Linked DNA regions of Homo sapiens: region 1 is linked to region 2. The links come from fine-mapping of genetic effects on gene expression. Tissue or cell type: cerebellum. Region 2 holds a variant in brackets; the other region holds the start of a gene. All regions are shown on one strand. Distances are between the middles of the regions.

The links. PIP is the estimated chance that this variant, and not a neighbour inherited with it, causes the effect.
Region 1: it holds the start of ABCA7, and the variant in region 2 is fine-mapped to the expression of ABCA7 in cerebellum (GTEx, PIP 0.94).

Annotation. Positions count from the first base shown.
Region 1 is chr19:1,036,527-1,044,526 of GRCh38, forward strand. ABCA7 (ATP binding cassette subfamily A member 7) reads left to right here and starts at 3,581. Exons shown (of 47, transcript NM_019112.4): 1 at 3,581-3,670; 2 at 4,699-4,901; 3 at 4,984-5,077; 4 at 5,305-5,446; 5 at 5,538-5,650; 6 at 5,789-5,871; 7 at 6,220-6,300; 8 at 6,515-6,725; 9 at 6,808-6,947; 10 at 7,199-7,315. The coding sequence starts at 4,836. It overlaps CNN2 (calponin 2), which reads left to right. Exons shown (of 7, transcript NM_004368.4): 6 at 1-36; 7 at 1,099-2,539. The coding sequence ends at 1,374. RefSeq lists enhancers at 1,587-2,146, 1,734-2,235, 2,236-2,735, 4,628-5,425 and a silencer at 4,577-4,716.
Region 2 is chr19:1,072,678-1,080,677 of GRCh38, forward strand. It overlaps ARHGAP45 (Rho GTPase activating protein 45), which reads left to right. Exons shown (of 23, transcript NM_012292.5): 3 at 472-615; 4 at 829-913; 5 at 997-1,069; 6 at 1,271-1,337; 7 at 1,427-1,564; 8 at 1,666-1,730; 9 at 1,937-2,047; 10 at 2,122-2,202; 11 at 5,180-5,368; 12 at 7,026-7,163; 13 at 7,251-7,441; 14 at 7,578-7,702; 15 at 7,787-7,870. Among named protein-coding and RNA genes, the nearest start is that of ARHGAP45, 9.5 kb to the left of the region's middle. RefSeq lists silencers at 1,772-1,881, 1,892-2,421, 4,769-4,858 and enhancers at 2,793-3,087, 4,459-4,598. The variant C/A (reference allele first, on the strand shown) is at 3,349.

The DNA.
Region 1 (8,000 bases), 36 kb before region 2:
AGCCTCCAGATGGGCACGAACAAGTGTGCCAGCCAGGTGGGGCTCGCCCGGGTGCCCCCGACTCCTCTCCCTGCCCCTCTACACCCTGTGGTCTCGGCCCCTCCCTGGGGCCACCTCCAGCTTCTCTCCCCACTCTCAGTCTCAGCCCCTTCCCTAGACCACCTCCGGCTTCCCTCCCCGCTCTCTGTCTCCGCCTTGGATTTCAGCCTCTGTCATTTCCACCTGGCTGTGGGTCTCTAGGGAAGTTACTACCTCACCCTGTGTCATTTTCCCTTAAGGACTGCCCAAAGGTCCACCCAATTCTTTTTTTTTAATCTTTATTTATTTTATTTATGTATTTATTTTGAGATAGGATCTCACTCTGTTGTCCAGGCTGGAGTGCAGTGGCACGATCTCGGCTCACTGCAACCTCTGCCTCCCGGGTTCAAGAGATTCTCCTTCCTGCCTCAGCCTCCCGAGTAGCTGGGACTACAGGTGCATGCTGCCACACCCGGCCAATTTTTGTATTTTTAGTAGACATGGGGTTTCACCATGTTGCCCAGGCTGGTCTCGAACTCCTGAGCTCAGGCAATCCACCCGCCTTGACCTCCCAAACTGCTAGGGTTACAGGTGTGAGCCACCGCACCCGGCCACACCCAGCTAATTTTTGTATTTTTAGTAGAGACGGGGTTTCACTGTGTTGGTCAGGCTAGTCTTGAACTCCTGACCTCAGGTGATCCTCCCACCTCAGCCTCCCGAGTAGCTGAGACTACAGGCGCCCGCCACCACGCCCGGCTAATTTTTGTATTTTTAGTAGATATGGGGTTTCACCGTGTTGGCCAGGCTGGTCTTGAACTTCTGACCTCAGGTGATCCTCCCACCTCAGCCTCCCGAGTAGCTGGGATTACAGGCATGTGCCACCACGCCCAGCTAATTTTGTATTTTTGGGAGAGACAGGGTTTCACCGTGTTGGCCAGGCTGGACTGGAACTCCTGACCTCAGGTGATCCTCCCACCTTGGCCTCCCAAAGTGCTGGGATTACAGGCGTGAGCCAGTGCACCCAGTGAAGGTCCCCTCTTCTCTCCACCATGACCTGCTCCACCCCTCCTTCCTCTCCAGGTGGGCATGACGGCTCCCGGGACCCGGCGGCACATCTATGATACCAAGCTGGGAACCGACAAGTGTGACAACTCCTCCATGTCCCTGCAGATGGGCTACACGCAGGGCGCCAACCAGAGCGGCCAGGTCTTCGGCCTGGGCCGGCAGATATATGACCCCAAGTACTGCCCGCAAGGCACAGTGGCCGATGGGGCTCCCTCGGGCACCGGCGACTGCCCGGACCCGGGGGAGGTCCCTGAATATCCCCCTTACTACCAGGAGGAGGCCGGCTACTGAGGCTCCCAGCACGCTCTCTCCCCACATCGTCTGCCCATCTGGGTTTTTGGGTTTTTCTGTGTTTTCATCTTTTTTTTTTTTTTCTTAACCCGTTCAGTGCTGCCAGTCAACCAAGGGTCTGTGAGTGTCAGCGTGGGATCAGGCAGCAGAGCTTTTTTCCCCTTTGCCTTGATCCTTCGCAAGGCTGAGCCACTGGGCTGTGGGGGAAGGGGTCAAGGCCATATCCCAATACGTGTAGGGCGAGGGTCCCTGCTGGCACATTCAGGCTGTGCTGGGAAGAAGAGACCTGGGCTTGGAAGGAACCGGTCCCCGACGGTTTCTGCTTGCCTCGCCTCTTCCCCCTTTTGTCAGCTGAGCAGTTTGTGGTTTCTATGCCCGCAAGTTTCAGGAAGTATTCACAAAAGAAAAATACATTTTTTCCCCCAGGGGTGGGGCAAGGACAGTGGAGAGAGTGCTAGGAAATGAGTCCCCTGGGAAAGGGGACCGGGCCGTGATGTTAAATATCTCCGGCTCCCAAGTGACTGGATTTGCCTAGGACCTTCAGACCAACAGACTTCAGACCCTCAGACCTGCCCCGGGGCCAGGTGGAGAAAGTGAGGGCCGTACAAGGAAGTGAAATTCTGAGTTGTTGGGGCTAAGCCTGACCCCCTCTCCATGCTCCCCGCCCCAACCCACTCTGGCCTCAGTAGATTTTTTTTTCAGTTGTGGTTGTTGCCCAGGCTGGAGTGCAGTGGCGCCATCTTGGCTCACTGCACCTCCACCTTCCGGGCTCAAGCGATTCTCCAGCCTCAGCCTCCTGAGTAGCTAGGACTGCAGGTGCTCCACCACGCCCGGCTAATTTTTGTATTTTTAGTAGAGATGGGGTTTCCCCATGTTGGCCAGGCTGGTCTCGAACTCCTGGCCTCAGGTGTGATCCGCCCGCCTCCGCCTCCCCAAGCGCTGAGATTACAGGTGTGAGCCACCGTGCCCAGCCCCTCAGTAGGTTTTAAGGAGCCCCCAGCCCTCCTCCCTTCTGGGCCCGACCAGCTTATACTGCTCCATCTTCCCCGGCCACATGCCCCGCCAAGTACTGCACAGGGACCCCCCACCCAGGGGACCTGCTCCGTGAGATAATGTGAAATACGACTGTGGACCAAACGCAATAAAACCTCTGTTTGTACGAAGAGAAGGTGGCCAAGAGAGTTGGCGTCGATGAGGGCGTGCTTTGCTTTGATGCTTTTGTGGGGAGAGAGGAGGTCTTGGGGGATGGGGGGATCAAGGGGAAAATGTCCACCTCACCATTGGGAGGAGGAGCAAAAGCTGAAGCCACAGGTGAGTCTGGGTGGAATGAATGATTTGAAGGGCCGGGACTTGGGGTAGAGGGAGAGGCTGGGCTTCCTGGCCATTTGGAGAAGAGGCAGTTCCCTCAAATGCCCCCCATGCGCTTTGGCTGCACTCTACCTTACAGCGCAAGTCTCGTGGCCTCAGCCTGGATGTCTCCCCGTTGGCGAACTCCTATTTATCCTCAAAGCCCCAACGGCAATGCCACCTCCTGCCGCGGGAGCCGTCCCCACGCCTCTCACTCTCCCCAGCGCCTTCAAAGCTGTGGACCCACACGCTCCCATTTCAGCTTCACCTCCAGCCTGAAGAGTTTATTTCAACTCTTCTTCCAGAGTGGGAAACGGGTTTTCCTCAAAATCAGGGTAGCCACTATAATCGGAGACTCTAGAATGTTGGCCCCCTCCCCCTCCTGCCATCCTCTGCAGAAGCCGAGGAGCGTTCGTGGAATGAATGAATGAACGAATGATCTAGTGGAACCCCTACTTTACAGACGGACGAGTGTAGTCCCAGAGTCTGGACTAAACTAGAGGGAGCCTGGCCAGCCCCGGGGACAGCGGGGACAGAGGGAACTCCTGCAATTCGGAGCTGCGGTATTGCAGCCGGTTATACAACGTGGGGAGGCAGCCTGGCTCCCCAAAGACAGCGCAGCCTCGTTCCCGGAGGGCGGCCTGCCTGGGACCTGCCGGGCACTCCGCCACCCTACGGTGATGCAGCAAGAGCCGCGCGGTCCCTTTAAGAAACCCGGCTAGGCGAGGCCCTTCTGTGATCCCGTCTCCTCCCTTGGCCCGCGCAGCTCCGACGGAGCAGGCCAGTGAGTGACGGGCAGGTCGCCCAATAGCAGCGTGCAGAGGCAGGGGCGTGCCCCGGCGCTGCTACCTGCGCGGGCAAGCTCAGCGCACTTGGCTTAAGGGGCGGCGCGCTCCCTGCCTGCTGCTGGGCGGAGGGAAGGCGGCAAGAGCTGCGGAGCCCCTGGAAGGTGAGAAGGACTCGGAGAGGGAAGAAGGCCCGAGACTCGAGAATGCGGGGTTGGGGCCGGGAGGGATGCAAGTTCCCTGGGAATTAGGGGGTCCAGCCTCTGACCTCCTTCCGGTGAATGTTGACGACGGCTGAATTGATCACTGATTCTCAAGGGGGGCATCGGACATCTGGGACCCTTAAGAGGGCCTTTGCCGATCACACACCTGCAGCCCCCTGCCCGTTAGAACTCCTGCACTCCCCCTTGCCCCGTCTTACAAATGGAGAAACTGAGCCCACTCCCCCAGATCCTAAGTCCCGCTTGATGTAAAGGAAAGAACCCTGGCGTAAGGGTCTGGGTCTGAGGTCCCAGTTCCGGCCTGGTCACCTTTAGCAACTTCCTGCCCCTCTGTCAGCGTCAGATTCTCCATCTGTGTCAGAGGTGGACCGGCCCAAGGAAAATAGATCAGGAATCGCTGACTCCAGGAGTCTCTATCCCAGCCCCTTCGCCTGACTCTTTCTCTGGCTCCCGCGGTCCCTCTGAGCGATTAATGCTACATAAGGTGTGGGCAGAGCTGGGGTCGTGCCTCCAGCTGGGCAACTGCCTGTCTCTCTGGGTGCCTGGGTTTGCTTTCTTGGGCCTCGGTTTCCACTTCTGTAGAGTGGGGTGATAGTCCAGCACTTCCCCTGGGCGTGTGAAATGTCCAGCACTGCCAATATTCGTTGCTGTTATCTTCGGAGAACAGTGAGGGGAAAGGAATCCTTGCCTGGGCTGGGCCAGGCAGGAGGCTGGGGGTCAGGACCTGGAAGAGGCTTCCAGGTGAGGCTTGGGGTGGAGCCTGGTGACGAAAGCGTTAAGCCCAAACTCGGTCCCTGGAGGATTAGAGGATGATCTTTAAGTCCCCAGCTGTCAGCCCTGCTCAGAGCGACAGTCCTGGCAGCCAATCAGATGCGAGGACGGCTGCGGGTTGCGCTCCCATTGGTTTACTCCACCCCTGGGGTAGCGGAGCCTCTTTATCGAGTGACTACTGTTTGCCTCGCTCTAATCAGAGCTTCCAGGAACCCTGCGCTGTGGGATAAAGGAATGAGGTTCAGAAAGGGGCAGGGAGTTGCCCGCAGCCGCACCGCACGTCTTCAGCCCGACCGTTGTCCTGACCTCTCTGTCCCGTCCCCTGCCCAGTCTCACCATGGCCTTCTGGACACAGCTGATGCTGCTGCTCTGGAAGAATTTCATGTATCGCCGGAGACAGCCGGTAACGCCCCAGTGTGAGACCAGGGCCGGGTGGGCAGGCAGCCCCCACTGTCCCCCACCGTCTCCCACCTATTCTCCCCCAGGTCCAGCTCCTGGTCGAATTGCTGTGGCCTCTCTTCCTCTTCTTCATCCTGGTGGCTGTTCGCCACTCCCACCCGCCCCTGGAGCACCATGAATGTGAGCCCCCCCAGGGACCAGGCACTTTGTGTGTGTAGGGGAAGGCAGATGGCTCACCCGTGCACAGGAATCCCCCGTGCATGTCAGGGAGCCTTCACCAGGCCGCCAATACATGGCATGGGAGTGAGCTCTCCATCGCTGGAGGCATGCAAGCGGTGCCGGGCGACCCGATGGGGGTGGAGTCAGGCAGAGTCCACAGGGCCTCAGCACCAGGCGTCTCCCCGCAGGCCACTTCCCAAACAAGCCACTGCCATCGGCGGGCACCGTGCCCTGGCTCCAGGGTCTCATCTGTAATGTGAACAACACCTGCTTTCCGCAGCTGACACCGGGCGAGGAGCCCGGGCGCCTGAGCAACTTCAACGACTCCCTGTGAGCCAGAGGCAGTGGGTGCGGCCGGCCTGCAAACTCGGGGCTGCAGTGCCGGCCGGAACCCCGCCTCCTGCCCTCTCTCTGTCCCCAGGGTCTCCCGGCTGCTAGCCGATGCCCGCACTGTGCTGGGAGGGGCCAGTGCCCACAGGACGCTGGCTGGCCTAGGGAAGCTGATCGCCACGCTGAGGGCTGCACGCAGCACGGGTGAGGAGGCCGGGGGGCCTCTGGCAGGGCTGAGCTCTGAGCCTCAACTTGCCGGGCCGTGAAATGGGCACAGGGTGGGGGTGGGTGCCTCAGACCAACGTCCCCCCAGCCCCATGCTCCCGTGCGCTCCTCCCCCAGCCCAGCCTCAACCAACCAAGCAGTCTCCACTGGAACCACCCATGCTGGATGTCGCGGAGCTGCTGACGTCACTGCTGCGCACGGTAGGGTGTCGGGGCGGGACCGCGCTGACTTCCTGGGACACTGCACTGGGGATGTCCTGGCACTGCCCCACCCCGGGCCAAGGACCTCCCGTTCCAGGCATCCAGGCTGTCCCTGGTCTCTGCGGTGATGCTGCTTGTCCGTCTGGGCCCCCAGACAGAGTGTGTCTGACCCAGTGAGGAAGACTCGTCTGTGAGATCTCCAATGAGTCCCTTTGCCTCTCAGAGCCTCAGTTTCCCTATTTGTAAAGTGGGGGCTATGATAGTATGGTCTGCCTGGGAACTGGCCAGAGCGCTGGACCCCTAGTGAGTGTTCAAAATCATTGTCCCCCTTGTGGTCTTTCTCCCCAGGAATCCCTGGGGTTGGCACTGGGCCAAGCCCAGGAGCCCTTGCACAGCTTGTTGGAGGCCGCTGAGGACCTGGCCCAGGAGGTACGAGGCCCCACTCATCCTCAACCCCCATGGAGGCAACGTTGGCAGGCAGCCTGCGCCGGGAGGGTCTGGGGCAGCCCGGGCACTTCCCTTGGGTGGGTTTTCAGGAGGATTAGACAGCGAGAGGGAGAGGCTGCCCCTGGCCCAGTGCCCTGCCCTGGTTAGGGCTTGGAGGTGGGATCATTGCCAGCTCCGTCTGGTAACCTCTCTCTAGCTCCTGGCGCTGCGCAGCCTGGTGGAGCTTCGGGCACTGCTGCAGAGACCCCGAGGGACCAGCGGCCCCCTGGAGTTGCTGTCAGAGGCCCTCTGCAGTGTCAGGGGACCTAGCAGCACAGTGGGCCCCTCCCTCAACTGGTACGAGGCTAGTGACCTGATGGAGCTGGTGGGGCAGGAGCCAGAATCCGCCCTGCCAGACAGCAGCCTGAGTGAGTGACTGACCTCGGTTTCCCCTCTTGGGAAGTGGAACTCTGGGCAGGGGGGCAGGGCCTCATGGCACCCCCATCCCAGGCCCCGCCTGCTCGGAGCTGATTGGAGCCCTGGACAGCCACCCGCTGTCCCGCCTGCTCTGGAGACGCCTGAAGCCTCTGATCCTCGGGAAGCTACTCTTTGCACCAGATACACCTTTTACCCGGAAGCTCATGGCCCAGGTGGGGGCAGCCTGGATGCTGGGGTGGGAGGGTGGTGGCCAGAGCCCATCCAGTACCCTCAGTCCAGGTGGGCCAGGGCCAGGCCGGAGGGTCACGGAAACTATTTGAAGAAGTAGGAGTTAGCCGATGGAGGGGGATCAGCTTGTGCGGAGGATCAGAGGCACACGCAGGAGCAAGGCAGAGGGGGCAGGGGGTGGGCAGGGGTCCTCAGAGGAGGAGAGGGTCATCAGTGGAGGGGGTGCTGTCCACAGGTGAACCGGACCTTCGAGGAGCTCACCCTGCTGAGGGATGTCCGGGAGGTGTGGGAGATGCTGGGACCCCGGATCTTCACCTTCATGAACGACAGTTCCAATGTGGCCATGCTGCAGGTGTGCGGGGGTGCTGGGGAGGTGGGATGTGGCTCCCCGGTGAGGAGGGTAGACAGGCCCGGTGGATGGGAAGGTGGGCTCCGTGCAGACCCCCACTTTTTTTTTTTTTTTTTTGAGATGGAGTCTCGCTCTGTCGCCCAAGCTGGAATGCAGTGGCGTGATCTCGACTCACTGCAACCTCCACCTCCCGGGTTCAAGCGATTCTCCTGTCTCACCCTCTGAGTAGCTGGGACTACAGGCGCCCACCACCACGCCCGGATGATTTTTTTTTTTTATTTTTAGTAGAGACGGGGTTTAACCATGTTAGCCAGGATGGTCTCGATCTCCTGACCTCGTGATCCACCCGCCTCGGCCTCCCAAAGTGCTGGGATTACAGGCGTGAACTACCACGTCCTGCTTTTTTTTTTTTTTTTTTTTTTTTTAAGAGATGGAGTCTCACTCTGTTGCCCAGGCTGGACTGCAGTGGCGAGATCTTGGCTCACTGCAACCTCCGCCTCCTGGATTCAAGCAATTCTCCTGCTTCAGCCTCACAAGTAACTGGGATTACAGGCATGCGCCACCACTCCCGGCTACTTTTTGTATTTTTAGTAGAGATGGGCTTTCACCATGTTGGCCAGGCTGGTCTCGAACTCCTGACCTCAGGTGATCCACCCGCCTCGCCTCCCAAAGTGCTGGGATTACAGGC
Region 2 (8,000 bases):
CGCCTTCAGAGCTAGCGTAGATGGAAAAGCTGTGTGATTGTTGAGAAATGGCTTCCCCTCTCTATGCCTCAGTTTCCTCACTTAGGAAGGGCAGAGAGAGACCTGGACAGGGCTTTGAGCAGTCCTGAGGAGTTAGGGCAGGGAAGGAGCCTGGTGGGCTGCATGGAGGAAGGGGCTGCAGGACTGTAGCTTGAAGGACAAGAGGCAGTTTGCTTTCTGGAGGGACAAGAAAAGAGTGTTCTGAGCAGCAGAGTGCCTAGGCCAACGTCTGGCCTTTGTTGATCTGGCCGGTAGCCCAGGGAGGGACAGTGCCCTCCCCGCGGTCTCGAAATGAGCCCCAGGCATCTGCCGTCTTCCACCTCTGCCTCAGTTTCCCCATCTGGGAACAGGAGCTCTAAAGAGGGAGGAGGTGGACAGACTTTCCCTGGGACTGGGCCCTACCCCACTGCTCACTCCGACTCTCCCCAGCAGACCTCCTTGAGGCCCGCCGCCCGCGGGCCCACGAGTGCCTGGGTGAGGCTCTGCGTGTCATGCATCAGATCATCTCCAAGTACCCGCTGCTGAACACCGTGGAGACGCTCACCGCAGCCGGCACCCTCATTGCCAAGGTCAAAGGTCAGCCTGCTGGAACAGGGCTGCGAGGGCTCTCTGCCTAGAAGGGCATCCTGGAGGAGGGGATGTTTGAAGTGGGTTTTGAAGGATGCATAGGAGTTTGACAGGCACAAGCTCCCTCCTGTTCCCCCTGGGTTAAGGGCTCCGGTCAGTTCTTGCAGGGATGGTCACCTCCCAGAGTGGGCCCACCTCCTTGTCCTTATCTCTGCTTCCCAGCCTTCCATTATGAGAGCAACAATGATCTGGAGAAACAGGAGTTCGAGAAGGCCCTGGAGACGATTGCTGTGGCCTTCAGTAGCACGTGAGCACGGGAGCCTGTGGGGCAGGGCAAGGGAGCGTGGGGGGCCCGGGTGTCTCTCGATGGTGACCTCGCTGGCCCTGCAGAGTGTCCGAGTTCCTCATGGGTGAAGTGGACAGCAGCACCCTCCTAGCAGTGCCTCCTGGGGACTCGAGCCAGGTGAGTGGGGTGGGCCAGGGCCACCTGTGTCCAGCTTCTGGAGGCCAGCCGGGTTCAGGTCTGCAGGGCCCAGACAGTCACCCTGCTTCCCCTGTGCGCCTTGGTTTCCCTCTCTGGGGGAGGCAGCAACCGTCCCCTGAAGGGTGGGCACTGCCCAGGGCCCCGCATGGGGCTGGTCTCACCTGCGTCTCCGTCCTACAGTCCATGGAAAGCCTGTATGGACCGGGCAGTGAGGGCACGCCTCCCAGCCTGGAAGACTGTGACGCCGGTAAGCCCCCACCCAGCGGCAGGCAGGCATTTGAGGGGTGGGCCATTGCGCGGGTCGGGCCAGGCTGAGCAGGCCCCCGTTCCCTGCAGGCTGCCTGCCCGCCGAGGAGGTGGACGTGCTGCTACAGCGCTGTGAGGGGGGCGTGGATGCCGCACTGCTGTATGCCAAGAACATGGCCAAGTACATGAAGGACCTCATCAGCTACCTGGAGAAGCGGACGACGCTGGGTGAGAGCTGGTGTCCCAGCAGGGTGGGTCTGGAGGGAGGGGGTTCTGGGTGAGCTGGGAAGGCCTTGTCCCAGCACCTCACACCCCTCTCCGGCCCGCAGAGATGGAGTTTGCCAAGGGCCTGCAGAAGATCGCTCACAACTGCAGACAGAGCGTCATGCAGGAGGTGGGGGCCCCGCGGGCACGGGGCGGGGGTCCCTGGGCCCGGGTGTGAGTCTCAGCCCCATTTCAAGGGCCCAGGGACCAAGAGCAGGGGCTTCCCCTCTACATTAACGGGGGTGGCTGCAGGGACCAGGGAGCTGGTGGCTGGGGGTGCTGGGGCCGCCCTGCCTCCATCCCTCCCCACCCAGTGAGCCGGTGCCCCACCCACAGCCCCACATGCCGCTCCTGTCCATCTACTCGCTGGCCCTGGAGCAGGACCTGGAGTTCGGCCACAGCATGGTGCAGGCGGTGGGCACCTTGCAGACCCAGACCTTCATGCAGGTGCGTGGTGCCCGGGAGGGCGGGCTGGGCGGGGGTGTCACCGGGGTACCCACTCACGGCCCGTCTCGCCCCAGCCCCTGACCCTGCGGCGGCTTGAACACGAGAAGCGCAGGAAGGAGATCAAGGAGGCCTGGCACCGTGCCCAGAGGAAGCTGGTGAGGCGGGCGGGCGGGGGCGGGCGGGGGCGGGCAGCGGGCCTCGGCGCAGGCGCAGTCCCAGCCCCAGCCCCATAGCGAGGGCCCTGCGGCGAGCTCCGCACACGCCCCGGCCTCCTGCGCATGCGCGGCCTCGCAGGCTGGGCCGCCCCCCCCAACGCCAAGCCGGGTCGGAGATGCTCCAGCCCCGTCGCCCCCAGCTCTGCCTGGAAGGACCCAGGAGCCCGGCGCTCACTGCTGTCCCTGCAGAAATGGGGAGAAGCCGTGCCTCCCTCGGTTGTAAGCAGCTGGTCTCCGGGTTGAGGGAGACTGATGGTCTCTCAGGACTGGGAAAGCGCCATGCTCCTGCATGTATTCTTTTTTTTTTTTTTTTTGATACGGAGTCTCGCTCTGTCGCCCAGGCTGCAGGCTGGAGTGCCATGGCACCATCTAGGCTTTCACTGCAACCTCCATCTCCCTGGTTCAAACAATTCTCCTGTCGCAGCGTCCCGAGTAGCTGGGATTACAGAAGCACGCCACCACACCTGGCTAATTTTTGTATTTTTAGTAGAGACGGGGTTTCACCATAGTGGTCAGGCTGGTCTCGAACTCCTGACCTCAGGTGATCCACCCGCGTCGGCCTCCCAAAGTGCTGAGATTACAGACGTGAGCCACCGCACCCACCCGGCCTCCTGCCTGTATTCTCTTCCCACTTCGCTTTTGGGTTATTTCAAAGACGCCGGCGCCTTTTTGTTTGTTTCTTTGCTTGTTTTGAGATAAGGTCTCGCTCTGTCACCCAGGCTGGACTGCAGTGACGCAATCATACCTCACTGCAGACTTGCCTTCTTGGGCTGCAATGATCCTCCCACCTCAGCCTCCTGAGTTCCTGGGTCTACAGGCACCAGCCATCACACCCAGTTCATTTTTTTGTATTTTTTGTATACTCACTATGTTGCCCAGTTTTTGTTTGCTTTTTAGCTGTGTTAACACGGTCTGCAGTGAAACGCACCCTCCTAGCTCCTTCCAGCACATACCGGCAAACACATATCTGCCCTGTTTTGTACACACGAGGACAGCTCACCTCATGCCCTGTTCTGCTCCTGATTTTTATCCTCACCTCCATATAGAGAGGCTCACCCGATATCAGTCAGCATGAAGCAGCCTGAA[C/A]CCCTTTTTTCGGCTGTGCAGGGCTCAGCTGAGGAGATTGAGTAGGTTATTTCATGGACGTCTTGGGAGTGGCTGAGCTGTTGCTGTTACGAACACCATTGCTATGACAAGCTTGTGCCCCTGTCTCAAGGATGCCTGAGGGATCAGTGCCCAAAATAGAACTGCTGGGTCAAGGGGCGTGCGTGTATGAGCTACCCTCCCAGGCCACAGCCCTGCTTTTCCTCTTCTGTGAACCCTCAGTTCTTAACCTTTGCTTAGTTCTTATCCTTTGCTTACTTTGTACTGGACAGTGGCTTATCATTGATTTGTCAGAGCTTTTTACATATTAGAGAACTTAGGCCTTAATCATGTGAGTTTTAGACTCCCCCCATTCCCCTCCCACAATTTACTGTTTGACTTTTGATTTTTACCTGTGGCCTATTTTGCCAGGTAGAAACCTGTGATTGTTGGCAGTAGTCTTTTTTTTTTTTTTTTTTTTTTTTTTTTTTGAGACAAGAGCCTCACTCTGTTGCCCAGGCTGCAGTGCAGTGGATCGATCTCAGCTCACTGCAACCTCCATCTCCTGGGCTCAAGCGATTCTTCTGCCTCAGCCTCCCAAGTAGCTGGGATTACAGGCGCCAGCCAACATGCCTGGCTAATTTTTGTATTTTTAGTAGAGATGGGGTTTCACCACCTTGGCCAGGCTGGTCTCGAACTCCTGACCTCAGGTAATCTGCCCACCTTGTCCTTCCAAAGTGCTGGAATTATAGGCATAAGACACCGTGCTTGGCTAATTTTTATATCTTTGGTAGAGATGGGGTTTCATCATGTTGGCCAGGCTGGTCTCGAGTAGCTAGGACCACAGGTGTGCGCCACCACGTCTGGCTAAATTTTTTAATTTTTTTGTAGAGATGGGGTCTCACTATGTTGACCAGGCTGGTCTCAAACTCCTGGCCTCAAGTGATCCTCCTGCCTCGGCCTCCCAAAGCACTGGGAGTACAGGTGTGACCCATGGCGCCTGGCGGTCTCCTAGTAATTGGATGAGTCCGTTTGTTTGTGTGCGAATCTGATGGTGCAGGTTGTGAGGTGTGGCCCCCGAGCCCACAGGTTTTTGACTAAGTGCTCTTCCTGCCAACCTGTGGGCGCCTGGCTTCCTGCCTGGGCGGCTTCTCTGTTCTCGTCTGTGAGGAGGGAAGTGAAAGCAAAAGAGCCCGGAGACGCTCCCGTGGGGGCTGGTGTGCGTGTCTGCAGAGGCTGCCGTGTGAGCCTCTGTGCAGAGCTTGGCTGCACCTCAGCTTCCCGGGCTGCAGAGTGGGCACACAGGACACCCATTTCTCCGAGTGTCCTGTTACGGGTGCCTCCTCCCGTTCTTTTTTTTTTTTTTTTTTTTGAGCTGGAATCTCTGTTGCCCAGGCTGGAGTGCAGTGGTGCATGCAATCTTGGCTCACTGCAACCTTCGCCTCCTGGGTTCAAGCTGTTCGCGATTCTAGTGCCTCAGCCTCCCGAGTAGCTGGGATTACAAGCGTGCACCACAATGCCCGGCTAATTGTTTTAAATTTTGGGTAGATACGGGGTTTCACTATGTTGGCCAGGCTGGTCTCAAACTCCTGACCTCAAGTGATCCACCTGCCTCGGCCTCCCAAAGTGCTGGGATTACAGACGTGAGCCACCGCGCCCGGCCACTCCTCCTGTTTTTCCGCTGCCGATTGTTGTGCAGGGTCCTCTGCATGCCCAGCTGGGCCATGGGGCCTTGCTGAGAGAGATGGGGGTGGGGAGGAAAGGAGGAGCTGGGGAGACTGAGTCCCATCCGAGGATAGGGTTGGAACTGGCCTCCTGGCTCCCACACCCACAGCAAGAGGCGGAGTCCAACCTGCGCAAGGCCAAGCAGGGTTACGTGCAGCGCTGCGAGGACCACGACAAGGCTCGCTTCCTCGTGGCCAAGGCGGAGGAGGAGCAGGCTGGCAGCGCGCCGGGAGCAGGCAGCACGGCCACCAAGACCCTGGACAAGCGGCGGCGGCTGGAGGAGGAGGCCAAGAACAAGGTGAGGGCGGGTGGAGGCAGGGCTGGAGGTCCCTGGAGGAGGAGATCCAATGCTTGGTGTGACATTTACTACCTCCAGACCTTTGTTTTTGTTTTTTTGTTTTTTTGTTTGTTTTTGAGACGGAGTCTTGCTCTGTCGCCCAGGCTGGAGTGCAGTGGCACAGTCTCGGCTCACTGCAAGCTCCGCCTCCCGGGTTCACGCCATTCTCCTGCCTCAGCCTCCCGAGTAGCTGGGACTACAGGCGCCCGCCACCACGCCTGGCTAATTTTTTGTATTTTTAGTAGAGACGGGGTTTCACTGTGTTAGCCAGGATGGTCTCGATCTCCTGACCTCGTGATCCGTCCACCTCGGCCTCCCAAAGTGCTGGGATTATAGGCATGAGCCACTGCGCCCGGCCAATTTGTTTTTTGGAGACAGAGTCTCATTCTGTTGCCCAGGCTGGAGTGCAGTGGTGAGATCTCACTGCAACCTCCGCCTCCCAGGTTCACACAGTTCTCTGCCTCAGCCACCCTGCCACCAAGCCCAGCTAATTTTTTTGTATTTTTAGTAGACACAGAGTTTCACCATCTTGGCCAGGTTGGTCTCAAACTCCTGACCTCATGATCCACCCACTTCGGCCTCCCAAAGTGCTGGGATTACAGGCATGAGCCACCGCGCCCGGCCCCGATTTTTAAATTATTATTATTTTTGAGACAGTGTCTTGTTCTGTCACCCAGGCTGGAGTGCAGTGACGTGATCATGGCTCACTGCAGCCTCTACCTCCTGGGCTCAAGCAATCTTCTCGCCTCAGCCTCTAGAGTAGCTGGGACCACAGGCGTGTGCCGCCACACCCAGCTAATTTAAAAAAATTCTTGGCCGGGCGCAGTGGCTCACGCCTGTAATCCCAGCACTTTGGGAGGCCGAGGCAGGTGGATCACAAGGTCAGGAGATCAAGACCATCCTGGCTAACAGGGTGAAACCCCGTCTCTACTAAAAATACAAAAAATTAGCTGGGCGTAGTGGTGGGCGCCTGTAGTCCCAGCTACTCGGGAGGCTGAGGCAGGAAAATGGCATGAACCCGGGAGGTGGAGCTTGCAGTGAGCCGAGATCGCGCCACTGCACTCCAGCCTGGGCGACAGAACGAGACTCTGTCTCAAAAAAAAAAAAAAATTCTTTATAAAGATGGGGGTCTCAGGCTGAGTGTGGTGGCTCACACCTGTAATCCCAGCCCTTTGGGAGGCTGAGACGGGCAGATCATATGAGGCCAGGAGTTCGAAACCAGCCTGGGCAACATGGTGAAACCCCTGTATCTCTACTAAAATTACAAAAAATTAACCGGGTATGGTGGGTGGGGGGCACCTGTAATCCGTTACTTGGGAGGCTGAGGCAGAATTGCTTGAACCCGGTAGGTGGAGGTTGCAGTGAGCTGAGATCGTACCACTGCACTCCAGCCTGGCCTACAGAGCAAGACTCCATCTCAAAAAAAAAAAAAAAAAGATGGGGAGGGTCTCACCATGTTGCTCAGGCTGGTCTCGAACTCCTGGCCTCAAGCAAGTCTCCCACTGTGGCCTCCCGAGGCGCTGGGATGACAGGCGTCAGCCCCGCCTCCCTGAGGTTTCTGTCTGAGTCCTGCACCCCGGGCTGAGGCCTCTCTCTGTGCGCCCCGCCCCCACCGCAGGCGGAGGAAGCTATGGCCACCTACCGCACCTGCGTGGCCGACGCGAAGACGCAGAAGCAGGAGCTGGAGGATACCAAGGTGACGGCGCTGCGGCAGATCCAGGAGGTCATCCGGCAGAGCGACCAAACCATCAAGTCGGTGCGTGGGGTGCTCCGGCCGCCCGGGCGGGGATGGTGGACCGGGCGGCCTCCTCCTGACCCCTCCGCTCTCCGGTGCCGCCCGCAGGCCACGATCTCCTACTACCAGATGATGCATATGCAGACGGCGCCGCTGCCCGTGCACTTCCAGATGCTGTGTGAGAGCAGCAAGCTGTATGACCCAGGCCAGCAGTACGCCTCCCACGTGCGCCAGCTGCAGCGGGACCAGGAGCCCGATGTGCACTACGACTTTGAGCCCCACGTCTCCGCCAACGCCTGGTACCGCCACCCAGCTGCCCTGTCCCCGGCGCACAAGGCCCTGCCTGGGAGCCGGGCTTCCCTCTGTCGGGGGCATGAAGATGAAGCTGTCTTGCCCCCCATCACCTCCCCTCCTTTTCCCGGTTTCTTCCACTAGGTCCCCCGTCATGCGTGCCCGGAAGAGCAGCTTCAACGTGAGTGATGTGGCGCGGCCGGAGGCTGCCGGGAGCCCCCCAGAAGAAGGCGGGTGCACTGAGGGCACACCTGCCAAGGACCACAGGGGTGAGTGTCCGGCGGGGCCCAGGGGCGGACGCTGGCTCCCTGCGACCCACCCTGGCCCTTCACCAGAGACGCCTCTTTCTCCAGCCGGGCGAGGACACCAGGTTCACAAGTCATGGCCGCTCTCGATCTCAGACTCGGACAGTGGGCTGGACCCCGGCCCTGGCGCAGGTGAGGGAGGCTCTCTGGCGGGCTGGGGTGTGGAGCTGCCTCCTCTCCTGAGCCTCAGGGTTTCATCACCCACCGGGGTGATGGAGGGGGCCCCCCTGGCTGGGGGAGTCTGAACAGTCCTGATTCCCGC